3 separate regions of the Homo sapiens genome follow, and regions 2 and 3 are each linked to region 1. Evidence: fine-mapped expression QTL. A gene starts in region 1. Each other region holds a variant in brackets. All regions are shown on one strand. Distances are between the middles of the regions.

What was found.
Region 2: its variant is fine-mapped to the expression of NHLH1 in whole blood (INTERVAL, PIP above 0.99).
Region 3: its variant is fine-mapped to the expression of NHLH1 in whole blood (TOPMed, PIP above 0.99).

The regions. Positions count from the first base shown.
Region 1 is chr1:160,362,119-160,370,300 of GRCh38, reverse strand. NHLH1 (nescient helix-loop-helix 1) reads right to left here and starts at 3,230. Exons shown (of 2, transcript NM_005598.4): 1 at 2,964-3,230.
Region 2 is chr1:160,388,556-160,396,737 of GRCh38, reverse strand. All of the region lies in intron 3 of LOC105371466 (a long non-coding RNA gene), which reads left to right. It also overlaps the pseudogene RNU4-42P. Among named protein-coding and RNA genes, the nearest start is that of VANGL2, 7.9 kb to the left of the region's middle. RefSeq lists an enhancer at 4,122-4,171. The variant T/ATACATACATACT (reference allele first, on the strand shown) is at 3,512.
Region 3 is chr1:160,242,362-160,250,543 of GRCh38, reverse strand. It overlaps DCAF8 (DDB1 and CUL4 associated factor 8), which reads left to right. Exons shown (of 14, transcript NM_015726.4): 3 at 6,510-6,584. The coding sequence starts at 6,536. Among named protein-coding and RNA genes, the nearest start is that of DCAF8-DT, 15 kb to the left of the region's middle. The variant C/T (reference allele first, on the strand shown) is at 4,584.

The DNA.
Region 1 (8,182 bases):
TGATGAGAAGGATACACCAGGCAGGTTAAAACTGAGCAAGAGGATTAAAGACTTAAAACCATAAAACTCCTAGAAGAAAACATAGGGAGAGACCTTCATGATGTTGGACTCAGCAGTGATTTCTTGGAAATGACACCAAAAGCACAGGCAACAAAAAGCAAAAATAGAAAAAACGGGACCACATCAGACTTTAATTTATTGACGAACATAATCAACAGAGTGAAAAGGCAATCTATGGAATGGGAGAAAATATTTGCAAATTATATATCTGATAAGGGGTTAATATCCAGAACATATAAATAAATCCTACAACTCAACAACAGCAAAAAATCAAATAACCCAATTTAAAAATGGGCAAAGGAGGGATTGGGAGGGGCGTGAAATGAGAAATTACAGAATGGGTACCGTGTATGTTATTCAGGTGATGGACATCCTAAGAGCCCTGACTTGACCATTATGCAATCTATGCATGTAACAAAATTGCACTTGTACCCCATAAATTTATATAAATAAACATTTTTTAAGAAAAAAATGGGTAAAGGACTAGAATACACATTTCTCCAAAGATTTTATACAAATGGCCAACAAGCATATGAAAAAATGTTCAACATCACTAATCATTAAAATGCAAATCAAACCCACTATGAAATATCACTTCATACCCATTAGGATGGCTACTATAAAAACAAAAACCAAACAAACAAAAAATAAGTCTTGGCAAGGATGTGGAGAAATTGGAACCCTTATGCCTTGTTGGGATTGCAAAATGATGCAACCACTATGGAAAACAGTATAAATGTTCCTCAAAAAATAAAAAATAGAACTACCATATGCTCCAGGAATCCTACCTCTGGGTATATATACAAATAAAGTAGGGTGTCAAAGAGATATTTGCACACTCATGTTCATAGCAGCACTATTCACAATAGCCAAGAGGTAGAAGCAACCCAAATGTCCATCAATAGACAACAGATAAACAAAATGTATTATATACATACAGTGGAATATTATTCAGCCCTAAAAAGGAAGTTCTGTCACATGCTACAGCATGAATGAACCTTGAGGATATGATGATAAGTGAAATAAACCAGTAACAACACAAATACTGTATAGCTCCACTTATATGAGGTATTTAAAGTAGTCTAATTCATAGAAACAGAAAGTAGAATGGCCGTTGCCAGGGGCTGGAGGGAGGGGGTAAAGGGGAGTTGTTGTTTAGTGGGTATAGAATTATACATTTGCAGGATGAAAAATTGCTAGAGATCTGTTTCACAACAATGTGAATATACTGAACACTACTGAATTGTACACTTAAAAATGGTTAAGATTATAAATTGTATGCTGTTTTTTATCTAAATGAATAAATAAAAGGAGGAAAAAATCTGAGCAAGACTGCAGCCACAGCCCCAAGAGAAGTTAGCTATGACTCTAGATGCTTCCCAGTTGTGAGGGGAGAATACAAGCCTTGGCCCTGTGGTCCCCTCCCTCTCAGGGCCCCTCTCCACCCTTGCTGCCTGAGGTGGAGGAGCGGATAAACACACAGATTGCCCATTGTAGAATAGACTAGGACATATGGAGCTCTGCGCAGCTGCCCCAGCTCTGCACAGCTCCCCTCCCAGTTCCCCAAACCTTCCCAGCAGAACCATTGTAGATATGAGATCCTGTCCACTAAAACCAGGGGAAGATATCTCTTCTCACCACCACCCCACTGTGCACAACCAGCCTCTTCCTCCACCTCTGTCTTCGAAATTTTCAGCCCTTGCCATTCCCTGGCCCTTTTGGAGGCTGGGCAAGGAAGATTGGGGAAAGGGAACATAATCAACCTTCTACCCCCATACTCTCCCATAGCCCAAGGAAGGTTCAGACACGGCCTGCAGAGGACACAGACAGATTTTTGGAGCTACCCTTATGGGACTCAGCTAAGGTTTGCTTGTCCTAGGACCAGAGGAGATCAGGGCAAGGCAGCACAAACATGGCCTGGGAAAAGCTGGGGAAAGGGCTTTGCTTGTGTGCAGTGTTAAAGGGGAACAGTGGGCCACTCACCATCAGCTCAACTAAGAATGATTAGAAACAGAAGCACCAAGGTGCCTGCACCATCACTATCTCCCCTTCCTCCCCAGCCCTGGCTTTCCTGTCTGATAGATACTCTCAAAGGGGTTAGGATCCTCCCAAGCCTTGCCCCACCCCACCACACAGAAGATAGGTTCAAGTCAAGCCAACAAACAGCTATGAAGCTCTGGAGGGATGCAAAGTCATCCACATCTGATGACAAGTACACACACAATCTTAACAGGAAACAGAAGGTGGTTAGTGCTGAAATTGAGAACACATTCCATATTCTGGGGTTCAAATGAACTATGGGGGGATGGCAATAGTGTGGGAGGCCCCAAAGTCAGCACCTCCCAGTACATGTTTAGTGCCCCCAACTCCCCACCCCCCATGCTGGGGCTGGGAGCAGGAGTTCAGCTGCGGAGTTCCCAACACATTTATCACATCTATCACAGGCTAATTCTCTCTGCCCGGTCCCTATGTTCCTTCATCCCTCATCACTTTGCCATGCCCTTCCTTCCCCTCTCCGTGCTCCCCATCTGGCCCCAGTCTCATCTCCACCTGGCCCCATTGTCCTCCCCAGTTCCAGTCCCGGCAGCAGCTTCTATTTACCCATCAAGTCCTCACCCCCAAATCCACTTCTGGTCTCAAAGTTCCAGGGTCCAAGGATCAGGGGAGCAGCAATTCCAAGCCTGCAGGACAGGACTTCCCACCCCACTTCTGCCAGCCCTAACCCAACTGAGGATAGATAGGCACAAAGAGTCGAAGGGGAGGAGTGGAGAAGAGGGACACGCGGAGACAGGGAGAGACACAGCGCACAAGGGAGAGAACTAGAGGGAGGCTCTAGGAAGGGGCTTGAGCCAGAGAATGGGAGGGACACGCCCATCCCTCCCCGCCCATGGTTTCCCCTTTACCTAGAAGGACCCTGTCAGGGGATCCAAGCCGGCAGGACAAGGGGCAGCGTTGACAGCCCCAGTCTCCTCTGGGTGCTCAAGGCTCATCCGTCTGCAAAGTTAGTGACCAGCTTTCTAGACTCTCAGGGGTAGCGTGGCATGGCTGTACAGGCTCCAGGGCAGATAAGAGGGGTACACATTGTGGGGGTGTAGGGCCCAGGTGGAAGTGGTGGGCTTGGCCAGGTACTGGGGCCAGCCACACTCACACACACACCCTCAGACACACACACCTGAGCTGGCCCAGCCCTATGTATATATATGGAGATACACACACACACCCCCAGCTCTCCATTGGCTGGCCCAGGCCCACCCCCCCCTCATCAATATTAAACAGCCAGGCCAGGCAGCCATTGGCAGAGGGATCTGGGAACCCCTCGGGAGCTGGGGGCGGGGGCTGGCCCTGGGTGGGGGCGGGGAGCGGGGGAGCAGGGACATCTGTTCTCCATGCATATTTCATAAGCAAGAAATGGAGAGCTGGGGAAGGGGTGGGGCTGGGGCGAGAGCCAGGGCAGGACCACAGATGAACCCCCTCAGTCTCCCACACCAGAGGCAGCAGGGCAGAGGCTCCCAGCAAGCTATGGTTAAGTGCCATGGCCCCATTCGGAGTCCCAGCGTGACTTGGACAGCCCCTTCCTGGTGTCTCTTTTTTCCTGAGAGGGAGACTCTTCAAGGTACTAACAGGGAAACCGAGAAAAGAGCAAGTGGGTAGCACTAAAATGCAGAAGAGGACCCTAGGGTCCTGGCCCTCAAGCTCTTATCCTTCATAAAGCTGGTACCCACTGCTTGCCAGCCTGCCTGTAGCAACTGTTCAGGCCCCTACCCTCATCACCCTGGGACTCAATCACCCCCATACCCTCTTACCCCACCCGCTATCTTCCTACCTAACCCATCACCAAGGGGAGGAGCAGGATCAAATTTGGGACACAGACCCCACAAGGAGTTTTTCTAGGCTGGCCAGCCCAACCTGACCCACTGGGAATTAGAGGGCTCTTAGGAAGAAAGAGGTAAGGGCTAAAAGGAGAGGAGTGGAGGAGTGCCAAGACAGGAAGAACCAGGATTGGAAGGACACTGGGAGAGGAGGGCAGGGCAGCCTAGGCAGGCTCTGAGTGTGTTTTGAGGGCATCAAATCAGCAATAAGAAAACCAGACACAAAATTATATGCAAATGGGCACTGATTAAGCTCCCATCAATAGCTCAGCAGCCTCCAGCATGTATATGCAAGTGTGTGTGAATGTGAATGTAAGTGTGAGTGTGTGTGTGTATGTGTGTGTTGCCGAGTGGCAGGATTGAGGAGGGGCAGCACAGGGACCAGAGTGCATAGAGAGACAGTGCATAGAGGGTTTCAGTGTCTGAAGTTCTCTCCCCACTCAGCTGTTGGATGTCTTCTCTGAACCTTTGAGAGTATTCAAAAGAACCATGACTGGAGAGGACTCCAGAGGTAGTGTGGTACAGTGAAAAAGGCTCTGTCAGCTGTGTGACCTTGGACAAATAACAACCTTTTGAGCCTGGACCTCTTTTCCTGTAAAATGGGGTTGATTATAGCTGCTTCTTAGGTTGCCATGGAAATTAAGGGAGATAATATGTGTAGTGGGCCTAGAGCTTAGTAGGAGCACATCCCACCTTCAGGCTGGAGGGACTTGCCATTTCCCTGTTGCTGGTCAACCTTTTCTGGGCTTTCTCCAGGGTGAAGCATTCCCTAAGGGGGTCCCATAATTCCTCCCCAAGCTCCCCCACCTGCCCCCATCCCTGAGTCTGGGAGGTGCCAACTCCCACCTGGGCAGGCCCAGACAGGTGCCCAGGCGCCAGCAGATGGGCTGAGCTGGAGGGGAAAGGAGGCTTGAGGAGGGGGGCTGGGGGGCAGGGGATCAGGTGGCATCTCAGTTCTTGCATCATCATTGCCATGGTGCTGATTAAAAACCAATCTCCACCTAATGAGCCCCCAGCAACAACAATTCTACCTCCTCCACTCTCCTGCCCTCCACCCCATCCAAGAAATTGGGAGACCAAGAGACTCAGGAGAGAGTGCCATGGGGGAGATGAGAGATACAGAAAGAAGGGGAGATGAACAGAGACAGGGGAAGCGGAGGGAAACGACGAGAAAGACACGGGAAGATACCGAGACTCAGGGAGAGAAAAAAATGAGAAACCAGAGTCATTGGGTAACAGACATGGGAAAGACATAGGGAAATGGGAAGACACAGTCTCATGGGGAGATTGAGACACAAAGGAGGTAAAAAGATTTAAAAAAAAAAAAAAAAAAAAGAATGGAAACAGAATTGCCAGGTTGCCAAGGCTTTGTGGAAGACTTGGAGACCCAAGCTATGGGAGAGATAGAGACTTGGGGAGAGGCTTTAAAAGAGGATGCTGTGGCCGGGCACGGTGGCTCACGCCTGTAATCTCAGCACTTTGGGAGGCCGAGGCGGGTGGATCACCTAAGGTCAGGAGTTTGAGACCAGCCTGACCAACATGGTGAAACCCTGTCTCTACTAAAAATACAAAAATTAGTTGGGCGTGGTGGTGGGCGCCTGTAATCCCAGCTACTCGAGAGGCTGAGACAGGAGAATCGCTTGAACCCGGGAGGCAGAGGTTGCAGTGAGCCAAAATTGTGCCATTGCACTCCAGCCTGGGTGACAAGAGCAAGACTCCGTCAAAAAAAAAAAAAAGGAGGCTGCTAGGGAGACACAGACTTGGATGAATACATATGTGGAGGAAACAGCTATTCAGCGGCAGGGAAATACTGACACCATGAGACAGAGTCCTGAGGGAGGCCCCAAGGCAAGGTGGGGCCACATAGGCACGGGGTAAGCAGAGAGCAGACAGTTGGGAGGAAACAAAAAATACCAGAGACAAAGAGAACAAGGTGGGGAAAGGTGATAAACTGAACGATGGAGATGAGGAACTATTACTGAAACAGGGAGGCCAGATCCCAAAAAGTAAGACATTGAGGAAAAAAGAAGCAGAATCTAGAGAGACCCCCGAAGCAGAAAGGAACCTTGAGGATGGCATAGAGCATGCAGGAAGAAGCCAAACCCCTTGCAGGGCTCCCTCCTTTCAGGCCATTTTGCTCAGATACTTAAGCTCTGCAACCTCCATCCCTGAAGCACACCGCCTGAACCCGTCGCAGTTCAAGCTAAGGTTCCACGGGAGAGGAGGGTGAAAGAGTGCTCTGGGGGCTGCTCCTCCTCCTCTGCATCTGGCATCCCAGGATCCTGGACTCTGGGGCCTCCTGCCCCAGTTTTCACTTAGGATTTCAGCTTTTGCTCCTTAGGGGAGTAGCTAAAAAAGAACATAGTTGTGACAAAGAGGACATAAACGCATGAAATGGTGGGAAGAACTACATCTACTAAATTTGGGGGCAGCTACACATGGGTCTAAGTCCTGGTGACCTTGGATAAGTCACTTAACCTTGGCTGAGTTTTATTTTGTTATAGTAGTGACACCCAGGTGAAATAATGCATGGGAAAGTGCTAGGTGAACTGTATAAAGTGCTCATCCCAACCTCCTATGGTGATTTAAAAGTGGCAAGAAGTTTCATACACACATATATCTGAAGCATTATGATTGTGGAGGCAGGGGAGAGCTCTGAGGCCAACCCAGGTTGTCTGGCCTCTGGCCCCAGTGAAAGGGAGAACCCTTGGAGTTGTGTGTGGGTCTTTGCTGCAAGGAGGACAGGAAGACCAGGGCCTGGGGATAAGGAGGATGATTATGGCTTTATAGTTTGTTGTTATTTTACTTTCTTTTTGTTGTTTAAAAATCTCCACTGGCTTTTATTTGCTATAATCCGATAATCAAGCAAAACCTGATACAATAGAATGAGTGTTCCTGCTATTTTACATTTTATAGGCATTCACTTTTTCAGATCATGATTCACAAATCTTTCCCCATAGCCTGAGAGGTAGATCGTTGAGGGAGGGGAGGGAGGTTGGTGTGTAGGGAAGACACAGGGGCCTGGGCCTTGTCCTTGAGGGTGGGGGGAGGGCCTGGAGGAGCTGGGAAGCAGTGGGTTTGGCAGGAGAGGGGGTGACATATGTGGGGAGCCCTGGGGACCCAACCAGGCAAGCGGCTGGCAGGGACAGCAGACGACATTAACCCTCGCTGTGCCACACCGCCTGACCCTTCCCAGGAGTGGCCTATGGCTAGGGTGTTATTTTGTAACAGTGGCAGTGTTTTGGGTCACAGGAGCAAGACAGGCAGAGCTTGCTCCTCCTGGGCAGGAGCTGTTGTTTCTGGGAAGGGACAGCCTGTCTTGGATGTCTTCTGTCTTAGCTTCTTTCCTTGTTTTTCCACATGGTCTCTGTCAGTCTGTCTTTCTCTGTCTCCACCTCTCTGTGCCTCTGGAAGGTGACAGCGGGTCTCCACTCTGGCTCACTACACAATCTGTCACTCTCTCTGCTGCCAGCCCGGCTGGAAGCCCCCCTTCTCAGCACCCAACTGAGCCCTCTCCTCCCGGCCCTCTAGGCTGTATTGCCTTTGTCTCCTAAGGCGGCCTCCCCTTTCTTCTCTCCTCTTCACTCACCTCTCCTCAGCTCATAGTCCATCTCCAATCTCATTATGGCCTCCAACCACTGGGCTCCCCCCTAACCCCCCCAACCTCTTCTCTTCCCTCCCCCATCCATCTGTCTTCCCTGAAGCTCTCTTCTTTGTGTCCACCCATCTGTCACCACCAGCTCTGGGCTTACTCCCCTCCTGGCCACGCCCGCCTGGCCTTTCTCCCCTCAGGCTCGGATCCCTCTCAGCACAGCTTTCAGCCTCCCTTTCCGCCTTCAGCCCTTCCAGGAACCCCCTACTTCCTTAGTTTCCTTTCACTAGCTTATCCTTTTCTGGATACCCTCTCATTTCACTTTTTTTCTTTCTTCCCTCAGTTTATCTAACTCCTTCTCAGTTGTGAGTTGGGGGAGATAGTGGGGACTCTAGGGGTCCTAGCCCCCAGCTTCTGAGCATCCAACTAGCCTGAGCCAGAGGCTGTAACATTTACTCACAATTGCATCATCTCCGACTAATGACTTCTCCTTAGGCCTCCTGAGATGACCCCTCCACTCCTGCTCCAAGTTTCCCCTGACTGGGGACAGGGGCAACAGCTGCCCTTTTCCACAATAGGAGTGGGAGAGCTCCTCTAGCTTTGGAGTTTGAATTCAGGAAGGAATAAAAATCCAATCTGAGGCCCATTGGGACCCCAACCT
Region 2 (8,182 bases), 26 kb before region 1:
GTGTGCGTTATATCCTGTCCTTTCCCACCTCCATCCATTATTCACAATCTCTCCTGTAACCAACTTCGGCCTCTTCACTGATCTTTGCCCAGCAGACATAATAAAATGAAATACCTTCCTCCACTCAGCAGCCTCCTCTTGCTTTAGCCTTCGCTTTTATTTCTTTCTCATCCAACCTTCTTAAAAGAGTAGATTCTTAGGCCAGGCCTGGTGGCTCACACCTGTAATCCCAGCACTTTGGGAGGCTGAGGCGGGTGGATCACCTGAGGTCGAGAATTAGAGACCAGCCTGACCAACATGGAGAAACCCCGTCTCTACTGAAAATACAAAATTAGCCGGTCATGGTGGCAGGTGCTTGTAATCCCAGCTACTCGGGAGGCTGAGGCAGGAGAATCGCTTGAACCCAGGAGGAGGAGGTTGCGGTGAGCCGAGTTCGTGCCATTGCACGCCAGCCTGGGCAACAAGAGTGAAACTCCATCTCAAAAAAAAAAAAAAAAAAAAAAAATGGATAGATTCTTTACTATCTCTCTTCCTCCCTTCACTCCTCAGCTCCTTGCACCCCAGCCATCCTTCCAATGTGTTTTCTACTCCTGACTTCAAATACTATTATTTCCCAGAATTCAGCCTTTGGCCCCCTTACTCCCCACTCCACATGCTTTTCCAAAGCAATGTCATTCACTCCTGTGGCTTCAGTCAGTACTCACTTATGAGTGCTGCTAAATCCAGGTCTATCTTGTGAGCATAAGACTCAAATTTTCAACTTCCTACCATACATTTTAACTTGGATATTCCTTGGGTATCTTAAATGTAATAGGTTTAAAAGGAACAACATTATCTTCCTTCCACCTCTATCCCCTTGGCTTATTCAGACCTTTATCATTTCCAAACATGTCTCATTCCCTTCCAATCCGTCTTCCTCCCATGTTGCCAATGTGATTTTTATGAAAGGGAAATCAGCCTGTCACTCTCTTACCTAAAACAATCCATGGCTTCCCACTGTCTACAAGATAAAGTCAAAACTTTTTGGCACCATACATAAGAAACTTCAGGCCCCAACTCATTCGCCTTCTCCAGGCTTATCTCCTAGTGCTCCCTGTGCATTTAAAGCCCAAACTTTCAACACACGTACATCCAAACTATACGCATCTACTCATTGTTCTGCCAATTTGAGGCTCTATTACTTCTCTGCCTTCTCACAAAGTTTCCTTTGCCTAAAATGCCTTCCTCCTTCTTTCTGCCTGGAAAGTTTTGTTGATCCTTCAAGACTGAACTGTGGCCTCCTCTGCAACTCTTTACCAATTTTCCCAAGCAAAGCTAGATGACCCCACACCCGGAGAACCTCCTTTGTGCTCTCAAAGCTCTGCATACCTTTGTTTTAGCATTTATGACATTGTATGGCAATTTCTTAATAATAATTGTATGGTAATTTCTCAATAATAGCATTTTGAGGTTGGAAGAGACTTTCTGAATTTTACAGATGAGGAAACAGGTACAAAGTAAGTGCCTCATTGCCCAAAGTCATACGGCTAATTAGTGGCAGCCCCAGAACTAAAACCCGGGTCTCCTGACTTACTGTTCAGCAGTCTGTCAACTGCACCACATTTACTGAGCACGGTTTCATCTGAAATAAAGATCATGGTAGTGACTCCTAGCCTTTTGTGGACTTTTGAGACTTTGATGAAAGCTACAAGCGCTCACCAGAACAATGTACACATGTACACACACAGAATTCACATCCATTCTCAGGGCATGCTGGGGGGTATGTGTGGCATTGGTTTAAAGAGAGAAAAATCTAGAAGTAGCAAAACCAGTAAGAAGGCTAATTAAATAGTTTGGGGGCAGGGTGGTGGAGGGGAGTTGAGCCTGGCTCCAAGGCTGTGGGGATAGATAAGGATAGAAAAGAAAGCTCATTGCCGGGCACCGTGGCTCAGGCCTGTAATCCCAATACTTTGGGAGGCTGAGGCGGGTGATCACGAGGTCAGGTGTTCGAGACCACCTGGCCAACATGGTGAAACTCCGTCTTTACTAAAAATACGAAATTAGCTGGGCATGGTGGTACATGCCTATAATCCTAGCTACTTGGGAGGCTGAGGCAGGAGAATTGCTTGAACCTGGGAGGCAGAGGTTGCAGTGAGCCAAGATCATGCCATTGCACTCCAGCCTGGGCAACAAGAGCGAAACTCCATCTCAAAAAAAAAAAAAAAAAAAAGCTGAAATTTGGAAGAGATGACCTGCAGGTGGGATGAATAGGGTTGAGGAACAAAGAGGCATTTAAAATGACTCAGAGGCTTCTGGTATGTATATTAAAGAAGCTGGTCATGCCATACATAAAATTAGGGGCTATTGAGAGAGCAGGTTTAAAGGGTAGATCATATGTGGGATTTGACAGGTATCTCAGGTATCTGTGGACTATCACGGTAGGGACATCCATAGGAAGCTGTTAATAACATAAGCACTTTCCACATCTCTCCTGCCACTCTTTCTCAGGCTATCTGAACAATCTATTATTCCCTAGCCCAAACACATGCTTTACTGCCTCCAATCCCATTGTTCATCCTATTGCCTCTATATGGAGCACCTTCCTTACACCATCACTCATATGCAAAATATTTCAAGGTTCAATTTGAATATTTTCTTGAGTAAGTCATTCCTGACATCATCGATTTGACTTAATATCTCTCTTCTATAAAGTCCCAAATCTTTCTCTGAATCTCTCCCACCATATTCACTATTTTGTCTTTTTTTTTTTTTTTTTTTTTGAGACAGGGTCTTGCGGTGTTGCCCAGGCTGGAGGGCAGTGGCATGATCTTGGCTCACTGCAGCCTCAACCTCCCCAGGCTCAGCTGATCATCCCACCTCAGTCTCCCGAGTAGTTGGGACCTGCCACCATGCCCAGCTAACTTTTGTATTTTTTGGAGAGACAGGGTTTCGCCATGTTGCCCAGGCTGGCCTCCAACTCCTGACCTCAACTGATCCACCTGCCTTGGCCTCCCCAAGTATTAGTATTACAGGTATGAACCACCATGCTCGGCCATATTCACTATTTTGAATTTCAGTTATTTATGTTCCTGAGAAAAAGAGGCAAGAAGAAACAAAGGATAGATGGTACAGATAGATAACAAATAACAAGACCAAAAGTTAAACCAGGCTATATCAGTAATCACATTAAATATAAATGGTCTAAATACTCCAATTAAAGGCCAGGCGTAGTGGCTCATGCCTGTAATCCCAGCACTCTAGGAGGCCAAGGAGGGCAGATCAGTTGAGGTCAGGAGTTCAAGATCAGCCTGGCCAACATGGTGAAACCCTCTCTCTACTAAAAATACAAAAATTAGTCAGGCGTGGTGGGGTGCACCTGTAATCCCAGCTACTTGGGATGCTGAGGCAGGAGACTCACTTGAACCCAGGAGGCGGAGGTTGCAGTAAGCCAAGATCATACCACTGCACTCCAGCCTGGGTGACGGAGTGAGACTCAGTCTCAAAATACATACATACATACATACATACATAC[T/ATACATACATACT]CCAATTAAAAAGCATAATTTGTCAGATTAGATTATAAAAGCAATATCTAACTGTATACTGCCTAAAAGAAATCCTTTTAAATATAGACAAAAATAGGTTAAAGCTAAAGGGATAGAAAAAATGTACCATGCTAATGCTAATCAAAATAAAGTTGGAATCGCTATACTAATACTAATAATGTAGATTTCAGAGCAAAGAATATTGCCCGGGATAAAAAAGAATCATTTCATAATGATAAAGAGGTCAATTCATCAAGAAGACATAATAACTCTAAACACTTATGTACCCAATAACAGAGATTCAAAGTACGTGAAGCAGCTTTGCACAATGGCAAGTATCATAGCCAATGAGGTTTATCTGAGGCATGACTATTGCTAATTGAAAAATTTTCCCAATACCCCACTGTGATGACTTGCAACATAGTCAGCACTGACAATTTTTGACAGTCTATACAAAGACTGAATTTGAAAAAAAACAAAAAAAAACAAAAAAACAGCTGGGCTAGTCATAGTGGCTCACACCTATAATCTCAGCACTTTTGGGAGGCCAAGGTGGGTGGATCACGTGAGCCCAGCAGTGCAAGACCAGCCTGGGCAACATGGTGAAACCCTGTCTCTACTAAAAATACAAAAATTAGACAGGCGTAGTGGCATGTACCTGCAGTTGCAGCTACTCAGGAGGTGGAGGCTGAGGCATGAGAATCGCTTGAACCCAGGAGGTGGAGGTTGTGGTGAGCTGAGATCATGCCACTGCACTCCAGCTTGGGCAACAGAGTGAGACTCAGTTTCAGAAAAAAATAAAAATACAAATACAAAAAATTAGCTGGGCATGGTGGCTCACACCTGTAGTCCCAGCTACCTGGGAGGATCACCTGAGCCTGGGGAGGTGAAAGCTGCAGTAAGCCATGATTGCGCCACTGCACTCCAGCCTGGGTGACAGAGTAAGACTCTCTCTTTATCTCTCTCTCTCTCTCTCTCTGTGTATGTATATATGTTTGTGTGTATATATGTGTGTGTGTGTGTGTGTGTGTGTGTGTGTGTGTGTATATATATATCATGAAGCAAAAACCAATAGAACTACAAGGATAAATTGACAAATCCACAAGGATAATCAGTAATATCCATACCCATACCTTAATAGTTGATAGAACAAATAGAAAATCAGTAAAGATGTAAAAGATTTGACCGACAGTATCAACTAATTTGACTAATTGATTATAGAACATTCCATCCAACAGCAGAATTTTTTTCAAGAACATTGCACATGGAACATTTACCAAGATAGCCATAAAATAAGTAGTGATCAATTTTAAAAGAATCAGATTATATAAAATATATTCCCTGGCTGCAATGGTATTAAAGTAAATACCAATAATAGAAAGATATCTAGAAAATCTCCAAATAAAATACCAGAGACTGGAAAGGGTGGAGGGGAAGGAAAGGATGAAGACAGGTTGATTATGTATACAAACATATAGTTAGATAGAAGAAATAAGTTCTAATGTTTGATAGCAGACTTGGGTGACTATACTTAGCAACAATTTTATGTATATTTCAAAGTAACTAGAGGAGAGGACTTGAAATGATACCAGAACTTAAAAATGATAAACACTCATTACCAAGGTGATGGGGGATAGAAATCTGACATCAAGGTGTTGGCAGGGCCATGCTTTCTCTGAAGGATCTAGGAGAGAGTCCTTCCTTGCTTCTTCTAGCTCCTGGTGTTTTCTGACAGTCCAGGGCATTCCTTGGTTTGTAAATTAATCACTCCTTTCTCTGCCTCCATTGTCATTTGGCTGGATTCTCTCTCTGGATCTCTGCGTCATCTTCCCACCCTGTGTGTCTATGTCCAAATTTCCCTCTTCTTAAAAGACACCAACCATATTGGATTAAGGGCCCATCTCACTCCATTACCTCATCTTAATGAATTGCATCTGCAAAGACCTCTATTTCCAAACAAAGTCACAGTCACAGGTACCAGGGGTTAGGACTTCAATGTATCTCTTGGAAGGAGGGGTCAATTCAATCCATAACACTAGCAATGAACACTCAAAAGATTAAATTTAAAACACCATTTACAGTGACACCAAAAAGTGTAAAATACTGAGAGATAAATCCAGCCAAAGATGTGCAAGTCCTATGCACTGAAAACTATAAAATATTGCTCAAAAAAATTAAAGAAGGTTGGAGTCCATTCCAAGATGGCCAAATAGGAAGAGCTCCAGTCTGCAGCTCCCAGGGTGATCGATGAAGAAGATGGCTGATTTCTGCATTTCCAACTGAGGTACCTGGTTCATCTCATTGGGACTGGTTGTACAGTGGGTGCCACGCACGGAGGGCAAGCCAAAGCAAGGAGGGGCATCGCCTCACCTGGGAGTGCAAGGGGTTTGGGGATTTCCCTTTCCTTGCCAAGGGAAGCTGTGACAGACTGTACCTGGAAAAATGGGACACTCCTGCCCAAATACTGCACTTTTCCAAGGTCTTAGCAACCGGCAGACCAGAAAATTCTCGGCTGTGCCTGGCTCAGCGAGTCCCATGCCCACAGAACCTTGCTCACTGCTAGCGCAGCAGTCTGAGATTGACCTGCAAGGCAGCAGCCTGGAGGAGGGAGGGGTGTCTGCCATTGCTGAGGCTTCAGTAGGTAAACAAAGTGGCCTGGAAGCTTGAACTGGGCAGAGCCCAACACAGCTCAGCAAGGCCTACTGCCTCTACAGACCTCACCTCTGTAGGCAGGGCATACCTGAACAAAAGGCAGCAGAAACTTCTGCAGACTTAGATGTCCCTGTCTGACAGCTCTGAAGAGAGTAGTGGTTCTCCCAGCACAGCATTTGAGCTCCAAGAACAGACAGACTGGCTCCTCAAGTGGGTCCCTGACCCCTGTGTAGCCTAACTGGGAGACACCTCCCAGTTGGGGCCGACAGACACCTTATACAGGCAGGTGCCCCTCTGGGACGAAGCTTCCAGAGGAAGGATCAGGCAGCAATATTTGCTGTTCTGCAGCCTCCGCTGGTGATACCTAGGCAAACAGGGTCTAGAGTGGATCTCCAGCAAACTCCAACAGACCTGCAGCTGAGGAACCTGAATGTTAGAAGGAAAACTAACAAACAGAAAGGAATGGCATCAACATCAACAAAAAGAACATCCACACCAAAACCCCATTTGTCGGTCACCAACATCAAAGACCAAAGGTAGATAAAACCACAAAGATGGGGAGAAATCAGAGCAGAAAAGCTGAAAATTCTAAAAACTAGAGTGCCTCTTCTCCTCCAAAGGATCACAGCTCCTCACCAGCAATGGAACAAAGCTGGATGGAAAATGACTTTGACGAGTTGACAGAAGTAGGCTTCAGAAGGTCAGTAATAACAAACTTCTCCGAGCTAAGGGAGCATGTTCTAACCCATTGCAAGGAAGCTAAAAACCTTGAAAAAAGGTTAGGCGAATGGCTAACTAGAATAAACTGTGTAGAGAAGACCTTAAATGACCTGATGGAGCTGAAAACAATGGCACGAGAACTTTGTGACGCATGCACAAGCTTCAGTAGCCAATTTGATCAAGTGGAAAAAAGGGTATCAGTGATTGAAGATCAAATTAATGAAATAAAGCGAGAAGACAAAGTTAGAGAAAAAAGAGTAAAAAGAAATGACCAAACCCTCCAAGAAATATGGGACTATGTGAAAAACCAAATCTAAGTTTGATTGCTATACCTGAAAGTGACGGGGAGAGTGGAACCAAGGTGGAAAACACTCTTCAGGATATTATCCAGGAGAACTTCCCCAACCTAGCAAGGCAGGCCAACATCCAAATTCAGGAAATACAGAGAACACCACGAAGATACTCCTCAAGAAGAGCAACACCAAGACACGTAATTGTCATATTCACAAAGGTTGAAAATAAAGGAAAAAATGTTAAGGGCAGCCAGAGAGAAAGTTCAGGTTACCCACTAAGGGAAGCGCATCGGACTACAGCAGATCTTTTGGCAGAAACCATACAAACCAGAAGACAGTGCGGGCCAATATTCAACATCCTTAAAGAAAAGAATTTTCAACCCAGAATTTCATATCCAGCCAAACTAAGCTTCATAAGTGAAGGAGAAATAAAATCTTTTACAGGGCCAGGTGCGGTGGCTCACGCCTGTAATCTCAGCACTTTTGGAGGCTGAGGCGGGCGGATCACGAGGTCAGGAGATCAAGACTATCCCAGCTAACACGGTGAAACCCCGTCTCTACTAAAAATACAAAAAATTAACCAGGCATGGTGGTGGGCACCTGTAGTCCCAGCTACTCGGGAGGCTGAGGCAGGAGAATGGCGTGAACCCAGGAGGCAGAGCTTGCAGTGAGCCCAGATCATGCCACTGCATTCCAGCCTGGGCAACAGAGCGAGACTCCGTCTCAAAAAAAAAAAAAAATCCTCTACGGACAAGCAAATGCTGAGAGATTCTGTCACCACAAGGGCTCCTGAACGAAGCACTAAACATGGAAAGGAACAACCAGTACCAGCCACTACAAAAACATGCCAAATTGTAAAGACCATCAACGCTATGAAGAAACTGCATCAATTAACAGGCAAAATAACCAGCTAACATCATAATGACAGGATCAAATTCACACATAACAATATTAACCTTAAATGTAAATGGGCTAAATACCCGAATTAAAAGACACAGACTGTCAA
Region 3 (8,182 bases), 120 kb after region 1:
GTATTATGTCATTTAACAATTTGCATGATTTTCCCCCATCACTCTTCTCTCATCCTGTTTTTTTTTTTTTTTTTTTTTTGAGACAGTTTCGCTCTTGTTGCCCAGGCTGGAGTGCAATGGTGCGATCTTGGCTCACCGCAACCTCCGCCTTCCAGGTTCAGGCAATTCTCCTGCCTCAGCCTCCCGAGTAGCTGGGATTACAGGCATGCACTACCACGCCCGGCTAATATTTTTGTACTTTTAATAGGGATGGGGTTTCTCCATGTTGGTCAGGCTGGTCTCGAACTCCTGACCTCAGGTGATCTGCCCGCCTTGGCCTCCCAAAGTGTTGGGATTACAGGCATGAGCCACTGCGCCGGCCTGCATTCGCTCTTTTTAGGCCACGTTTATTAAGGTATAATTTATATACAGTAAAATTTATCCTTTTTTGAGTTGGCCTATTCTTTTAATTCTGACAAAGGCATAGTTATGTAACACCACTGTGATTGGCGCATGGAACATTTCCATCATTCCAAAAGGTTTTCTCATGCCCTTTCGTAGTCAGTTTCATTCCCCTACCTCCAAGCCCTGGCAATCCCTGATCCCTCTATTCCTATAGTTTTATCTTTTCCAGAAAGTACTATAAGTGGAATCATATATTGTATAGCTGTTTGAGTCTGAATTATTGCACTTACCATAACATACTTGAGATCTATCCATGTTGTTGCTTGTATCAGTAGTTCATTCCTTTTTATTACTCAGTAGTATCCCATTGTGTGGACCTACCACAATTTGTTTATCTATGACCCAGCTGAAGAAAATTTGTTTCCAGTTTTTTGATGAATTTAAGTAAAACTATTAAAACATTCACCTACAGGGTATTTTTAATTTTGTGGACATACATTTTCCTTCTTGTTTATCTTATTTATTTATTTTTAAAGATGGAGTATTGCTGTGTTACTCAGGCTGGTCTTTAATTCCTGGGCTCAAGCAGTCCTCCTGCCTCAGCCTCCCAAATTGCTGGGATAACAGGTCTGAGCCTCTTTTTTCTTGTATAAATTCCTGAAGCTGAAGTGGGATTCCTGAGTTGTATGATAAGTGTATATTTAACTTCATAAGAAACTGCCAAATTGCTTTTTTCAAAGTAACTGTACTGTTTTGCATTTCTAGTAACAGTGTATATGAGTTGTAGTTGCTCTACTTCTTGTTAGTACTTAATAAAGTAAATTTTTGTTATTTAAACAATTTTTGACCATTCAAATAAGTGTTTAGTGGATTCTCATTGTGGTTTTAATTTATATTTTCCTAATTATTAATAATGTTGAGGATCTTTTCAAGGGATTATTATTTACAGTACTTTTTTTGGTTTGTTTTTGAGATGGAGTCTCCTCTGTTGCCCAGGCTGGAGTGCAGTGGTGCGATCTCAGCTCACTTGCAACCTCTGCCTTCTAGGTTCAAGCGATTCTCCTGTCTCAGCCTCTCCAGTAGCTGGGACTACAGGCATGTGCCACCACCCCCAGCTAATTTTGTATTTTAATAGAGATGGGGTTTTACCACGTTGGTCAGGCCAGCCTCAAATTCCTGACCTCAGGTGATCTGCCCGCCTCAGCCTCCCAAAGTGCTGGGATTACAGGTGTGAGGCACCACACCCGCCCTCTTTTTTTTTTTTGAGATGGTGTCACTCTGTTGCGTAGACTGGAGTGCAGTGAGTAGCAGGATCATAGCTCACTGCAGCCTTGAACTCCTAGACTTAAGTGATCCTCCCACCTCAGTCTTCCAAAGTGTTGGGATTACAGGTGTGAGCCACCATATCCAGCTCGCGATAATTATTTAGTTGTGACAGTTTTTTTTTTTTCTTTTTTTGAGATGGAGTCTTGCTCTGTCACCAGGCTGGAGTGCAGTGGCGCGATCGCAGCTCACTGCAACCTCCTCCTCCCTAGTAGCTGGGATTACAGGCACGCACCATCATGCCTGCCTAATTTTTTTGTATTTTAGTAAAGACGGGGTTTCACTATGTTGGCCAAGATGGTCCTGATCTCCTGACCTCGTGATCTGCCCACCTCGGCCTCCCAAAGTGATGGGATTACAGGCGTGAGCCTCCACGCCCAGCCCCAGCCTGTTGCGACAGTTTTAAAGGATATTCTGGTTACTGTCCTTGATCAAATACATGTTTTGTAGATACTTTCTTCCAGTCTGTAGCTTGTCTTTGCATTGTTGTAACAGTATCTCTTGGAGATATTTTAATTTTTTTTTTTTTCTAGATGGAGTCTCTCTTTGTCACTCAGGCTGGAGTGCAGTGGTACTATCTTGGCTCACTGCAACCTCCACCTCCTGGGTTCCAGCGATTCTCTTGTCTCAGCTTCCCCAGTAGCAGGGACTACGGGCATGTGCCACCACGCCCGGCTAATTTTTGTATTTTTAGTAGAGACGGGGGTTTCACCATGTTGGCCAGGCTGATCTCGAACTCCTGACCTCAGGTGATCCACCCGCCTTGGCCTCCCAAAGTGCTGGGATTACAGGCCTGAACCACCGCTCAGATTTATCAGAATTTATTAATTTTGATAAATCCAACTGATTAATTTTTTTGTATGTGCTTTTTGTGTCCTATCCTAAGAAATTGTTGCCTAACCCAAGGTCACAAAGGTTATTTTCTTTGTTTTCTTCTGGAACTTGTGTTGTTTTAAGTTATATTTAGGTCTGTGATTCATTTTGACTTAGCTTTTGTATATTGTACAATGTATGGATTGAGGTTCTTTAGTTTTTTTCTTTTGGCAGTTGAATGTTCAGTTATTCTGGTACAAGTTGAGCATCCCAAATTAAAAAATCTGAAATCTAAAATGCTTTGAAATCTGAAACTTTTCGAATGCCAACTTGATGCTCAAAGGAAATACTCGTTGGAGCATTTTGGATTTTGAATTTTCTGATTTGAGATGCTCCACTGGTATATTGCAAATATTTAAAAATTTGAAACACTTCTGGCCCCAAGCATTTTGGGTAAGAGGATACACCGGACAAGGGATACGTAGTCTCTTATGCAGATCTTTCATCATATTAGAGGAAAAGAGCAGCCCCAGTAGTTTTAAACAAGAGACACTTGGTATCTCTTTTACAGAGTACTCTTATCCAGCGTAGTAAAGTCTTTCTGCCTGGTTTTTAGTTAATATTTTGTCATGTAATTGGTTAAAAATTTAAGGCTTTATTCTTATTAAGACAAGAAAAATCTAGGTCACTGGAATTTCTTAGTGAAATTAAAATGGCACCTGGGTCTTTTTTCCTCACCCTCCAGTGGGTTACTCTTTAACCTTCAGTTTGGCAGGAGTTATGGTTATTTTTAGAGTAGGAACAGTGGAGCTAATCTAATTAAACTCCTCCAACTACCTGGGACAGTGAGCTCATCAGCTTTTCCAACCTCAGCAAGATTAGCTTTGGACTAGATTTTACATGAAAGTTGATCAAAGTAAAAATAGTGGATTTGTTGGAAATACAGTGAAAAGTGAAGAAGATAGTTTGGATTTGAATCAAATATGTTCTCTGCAGACCTCAGTTTATAAAGTTAAGACTGTATTCTTTGGTAATGGAAAAGATTTTTTATTTTTTATTTTTTTGGAGACTGTGTCTTGCTCTGTCGTCCTGCCTGGAGAGAAGTGGTATAATCACAGGTCACTGCAGCCTCAACTTCTATGGCTCATGTGATCCTTCCATCTCAGCCCTACCCCAAGTAGCTGGGACTACAGGCATATGCCTGACTGATTTTTTTCTTTTCTGTAGTGACGGGGGTCTTCTTATGTTGCCCAGGCTGGTCTCCAACTCCTGCCTCGGCCTCCCAATGTGCTGGGATTATAGGCGTGAGCTGCCGTGCCTGGCTGGAAAAGATTTTTCAGTGGCTCCTATACTTGACACCTAGGGCACAGCATCTCTGCCTCCTTGACTGATTTATAGAGACAAGGGTCTCACAGTTCTGCCCAGGCTGGTCTTGAATTCCTGAGCTCAAGCAGTCCTTTCTCAGCCTTCTGAGTAGCTGTGATTACAGGTGCATGCCACACCTGTGAGCATCAGGTTCCTGCTCAAAGTTTTCACTCATATAGGTTCATAATCAAAGTTTGGAGACCACTGCTCTAGAGTATCCTTCTGCAGAAATTTTGACATTTAATTCTACTTACTTTTATCATCTGTGCACATGTATTTTCTAGAGCAATTATGAGTCAAAAGTTCAGGCAGTCTGGGCTCCTGTAGGAGTTGATGCTTGGTTTTGAGAGAGGTTCTCTGCAGCTGCTTTTGAATTCTCTGGGAGTGGATAATAGTGGGGTGAAACGTATGGTAAAGAGTTTTGATTATGGAGGTGGGAAAACATCAGATCTGTTCTTCATGTTACACTGGTCTGCTTATTACCTTAGTTTATAAGTTTTTTTTAATTTTTTTTTTTGAGACGGAGTTTGCTCTTGTTGCCCAGGCTGGATGGGGTGCAATGGCACGATCTCGGCTCACCACAACCTCCGCCTCCCAGGTTCAAGCAATTCCCCTGCCTCACCCTCCCTAGTAGCTGGGATTACAGGCATGTGCCACCATGCCCAGCTAATTTTGTATTTTTAGTAGAGACAGGGTTT[C/T]TCCATGTTGCTCAGGCTGGTCTCGAACTCCTGACCTCAGGTGATCTGCCCTCCTCGGCCTCCCAAAGTGCTGGGATTAATCTTAACAAAGTAGTACATTTTCCCCACTTGATAGGAATTAATATAATTTTAAACTCTAGATGGAGAAGATAGGCTCCTATTCTAAAGAATATAAACAAGGACTGTTGAGAGGGAAAAACAAGTGCTGTGTGAGGAATGCTATACAAAACTGTCTACCTCAAAAATGAGGAAAACAAAATGCATTGCAAACAGCTTCTCACTATTTTTCTTCATGTTGCTTCACATATCTGTTTTTTGTTGCCATTGTCTTTCATCATCACCCTTCCAGGTGTCCCTTCCTGAAGTTCAGTCAGCTTCAGCCCCAGTCTTGCAGTATTTCTATTCCCACCTTGGCCTATTATGAACAATCTTTGGGCTACTGTCTTTTGACAGAGGATACTTTTAATGAAGCAGCTTAGATTTCTATAGAGGGTAGCGGAGGAAAAGATAAGGATGAGGCTGCTTCTGGAATAATTGTCATGGGAATGAAAGGGCTGTTGAAAGATTAGAGGCCAGTGTGCCTGGGTACAAGGACTGGGGTCATAATTATACTTTGTCTTTTACTAGTGCCTTTTGTCCAAGTCACTGAAAGGGCTTAATAAAATTCTGGTCTGAATAATATTATTCTTTGCTCTTTGGAATTTACTGGAGGTGGCAGTGAGGCTCTGAAAAAAATATGAATGTTTTATAGTGGCATAAAAGGAAGTGAGTTAGATACCCTGATTCCTTGTTAAGGAAAGATGAGTCTGGTGAAAGCTGGTGCTGTTAGGTGAAACAGTGTTTGCCATTATATGAAATGGGATGAGATGGTTTAATGGAAATGTTGCCTTTTTCTTCCCCACCTTTGTCTTTGTGCTTAGAGACTCTGACTGTTAGTCCTAAGGGAAACAAAACAACTTAAGCTTCTTTCCTAGGGATAGGGTGCTCCTGATTTCTAGTTTCAGCTCTATAATCCTTAGTATCTGTGCCTTTAATAAGTTTGAAGTTAGTTGGGCTGGGCGTGGTGGCTCATGCCTGTAATCCCAGCACTTTGGGAGGCCGAGGCGGGCGGATCACTCGGGAGATCGAGACCATCCTGGCTAACACAGTGAAACCCCATCTCTACTAAAAATACAGAAAGGTGGGCATGGTGGCAGGCGCCTGTAGTCCCAGCTACTTGGGAGGCTGAGGCAGGAGAATGGTGTGAACCCGGGAGGCAGAGCTTGCAGTGAGCCTAGATAGCGCCACTGCATTCCAGCCTGGGCGACAGAATGAGACTCTGTCTCAAAAAAAAAAAAAGAAAGAATAATAATAATAGGTTTGAAGTTAGTCATCTGAGTGAACAGAAAGCTCAATCTCTTCCCCCAAGAGGTTGATTTCTGTTGATTTGTGTGTAAAATGATACTCAGAATCTGACCCACCTCTTTATGTTGTGAAAACAAGTGTTGTACAGAGTTTGAGGATACATATGTCACTTATTTACATTGGAAGATTCTTGCCTAGGGGGCAATGCTGAAGTTAGCTTTATGTATTGAGTTGAGACTCTTGGCTTGCAGTACCTGTCATTTGATATGTGCCTCCTGTTCCAGGTTTTATTTTAGTTCCCACTTTCGCATCTGAAAAATCACTGCCAGTTACTCAGTGAGTGAAGTAAAGAGATGGCACTTGACCTCCCCAAAAATATATCATTATATGGATTTTAAACATAGGGAAGAAAACATAAGGAAGAAAAAATTTCACAAGCTGAGAAGACCTGTTAAGCATGCATACACAAATCATTTTTATAAAAATGATAAAACCTGTACATTGTTAAATCTCCTTGTCCCTATTGTCTTCTTTCCCAGGTGGTTTCCTAATTGTTTTGGTTTCTTCCTCTCCCAAACCCAGGCTGGCTACAGCAAACATCATTCAAGATGTCCAGCAAAGGGAGCAGCACAGATGGCAGAACAGACTTAGCTAATGGTAAGGGGCCAAAATGAAGGTGAAGCTATTTTTACTATCAACTGAGGTTGTCCTCCTCCCTGCAAGATAGAGTGGAGGCCTGGATTTTAGTGGAGAGAGGGAAACTTTCCTGTGTTGTTCTGAGTTTAGGAAACTACACAGGAAACACCTTGGACTATATTATGCTTTTGCTTCTTCTGATTTTATCTGATCATTTTCAAAATATCAATAACAGAGCTGTACTTCTAAGAGGTCAAGTGGTTTGGAGTTCTATAAAGCTATAAGGATGGGCAGAACCTAGGAAATGCTGTTAGTAAAGGAGAAAAATAAAATCTAATGGCTAGTAGGAACAAGGGAATTTTAGGGAAGATGAGCTTCCCAGTTATATTGAGAGGTCCCTTTCCACAGTAAGTAGTAGTTTGATAGAGAGATTACATGGCTGGGCATGGTGGCTCATGCCTATAATCTCAGCACTTTGGGAGGCTGAGACAGGCAGATCGCTTGAGCCCAGGAGCTTGAGACCAGCCTGGGCAACATAGCGAGACCCCGTCTTTTTAAAAAAAAAAAAAAAAAAGGTGATTACATAAGGGATGAAGTTACAACCCAACTAGGAGTGGGACATCTTTCCCCTCCTTATTTCCTTTCCTTACTTCCCCTCCCTTCTTTCCATTTATTTCCTTCCTTCCTTCCTTTCCCTCCTCCTTCTTTTCAGGACCAGTGCTGCCAAGTGTCAAATCACTGGCTTTAGGGCAGATTTGAAGGCAGAATATAAAAATTCTAATAGAGTATAACTACCACCTGGGTTATTTAACCAGCTCTTCACCTCTGAGCCAACTTTTAAATTAGAGAAGCCGCCTTTAAATGGATATAGTTGGGCAGCACAGAGTCCAGCATTCCTTAGCACCTTGAAGGTCAGGATAACAGGCTAAATTCTAGTTGATGTGATTGGAGGAAGGATAAGTGAGATTTTCAACATGCTTTTTTATTGCTCCATATGTTCTTATCACTGCCATTCATTCATCTTTTGTAAAGGAAAGTGGTTCATATTTTTCACTGGGTTTAGTTGAAAGGCACAGGGTTCTAGAGGAGTTAAAGTATACTATTGATTTGGAGCTTGACCATTAGCTAGGTCAAGGATTGGCAAACTATAAATTGCAGGCCAAATCCAGCCTGCCACTTGTTTTTGTAAAGTTTTATTGGAATACAGTCATGCCTGTTCGTTTATGTAGTGTCTATGAGTTGCTTTTGTTCTACATACTGGAGTTGAGTAGTTGTGGTGGAGCTCCGTATGGTCTGCAAAGCCTAAGGTTTTTACTATCTGGCCCTTTACAGAAAAAATTTGCAAACCCCTACTCTAGATCTTGGTGATTTACTGTTGGGGACTTCTTGATGAGCTTGTGATACCCTCTGGCCCTTATGTTAATGTGGTAAGGCCTCCAAAATTGTCTATATTTGTTACTCATAATTTTAACAATAAACACTAGATGTTTTGGTGTTTTATTTTTTCTTTTCTACAGACCTGTTAGGTTGGTGTTTCAGTCCCTGCTCACCACTCCCAAGCTCAAGCCCAGCTGCATTTCAAAAAACTGTAACTGCTAAACTTTCGTAGCATATATAAC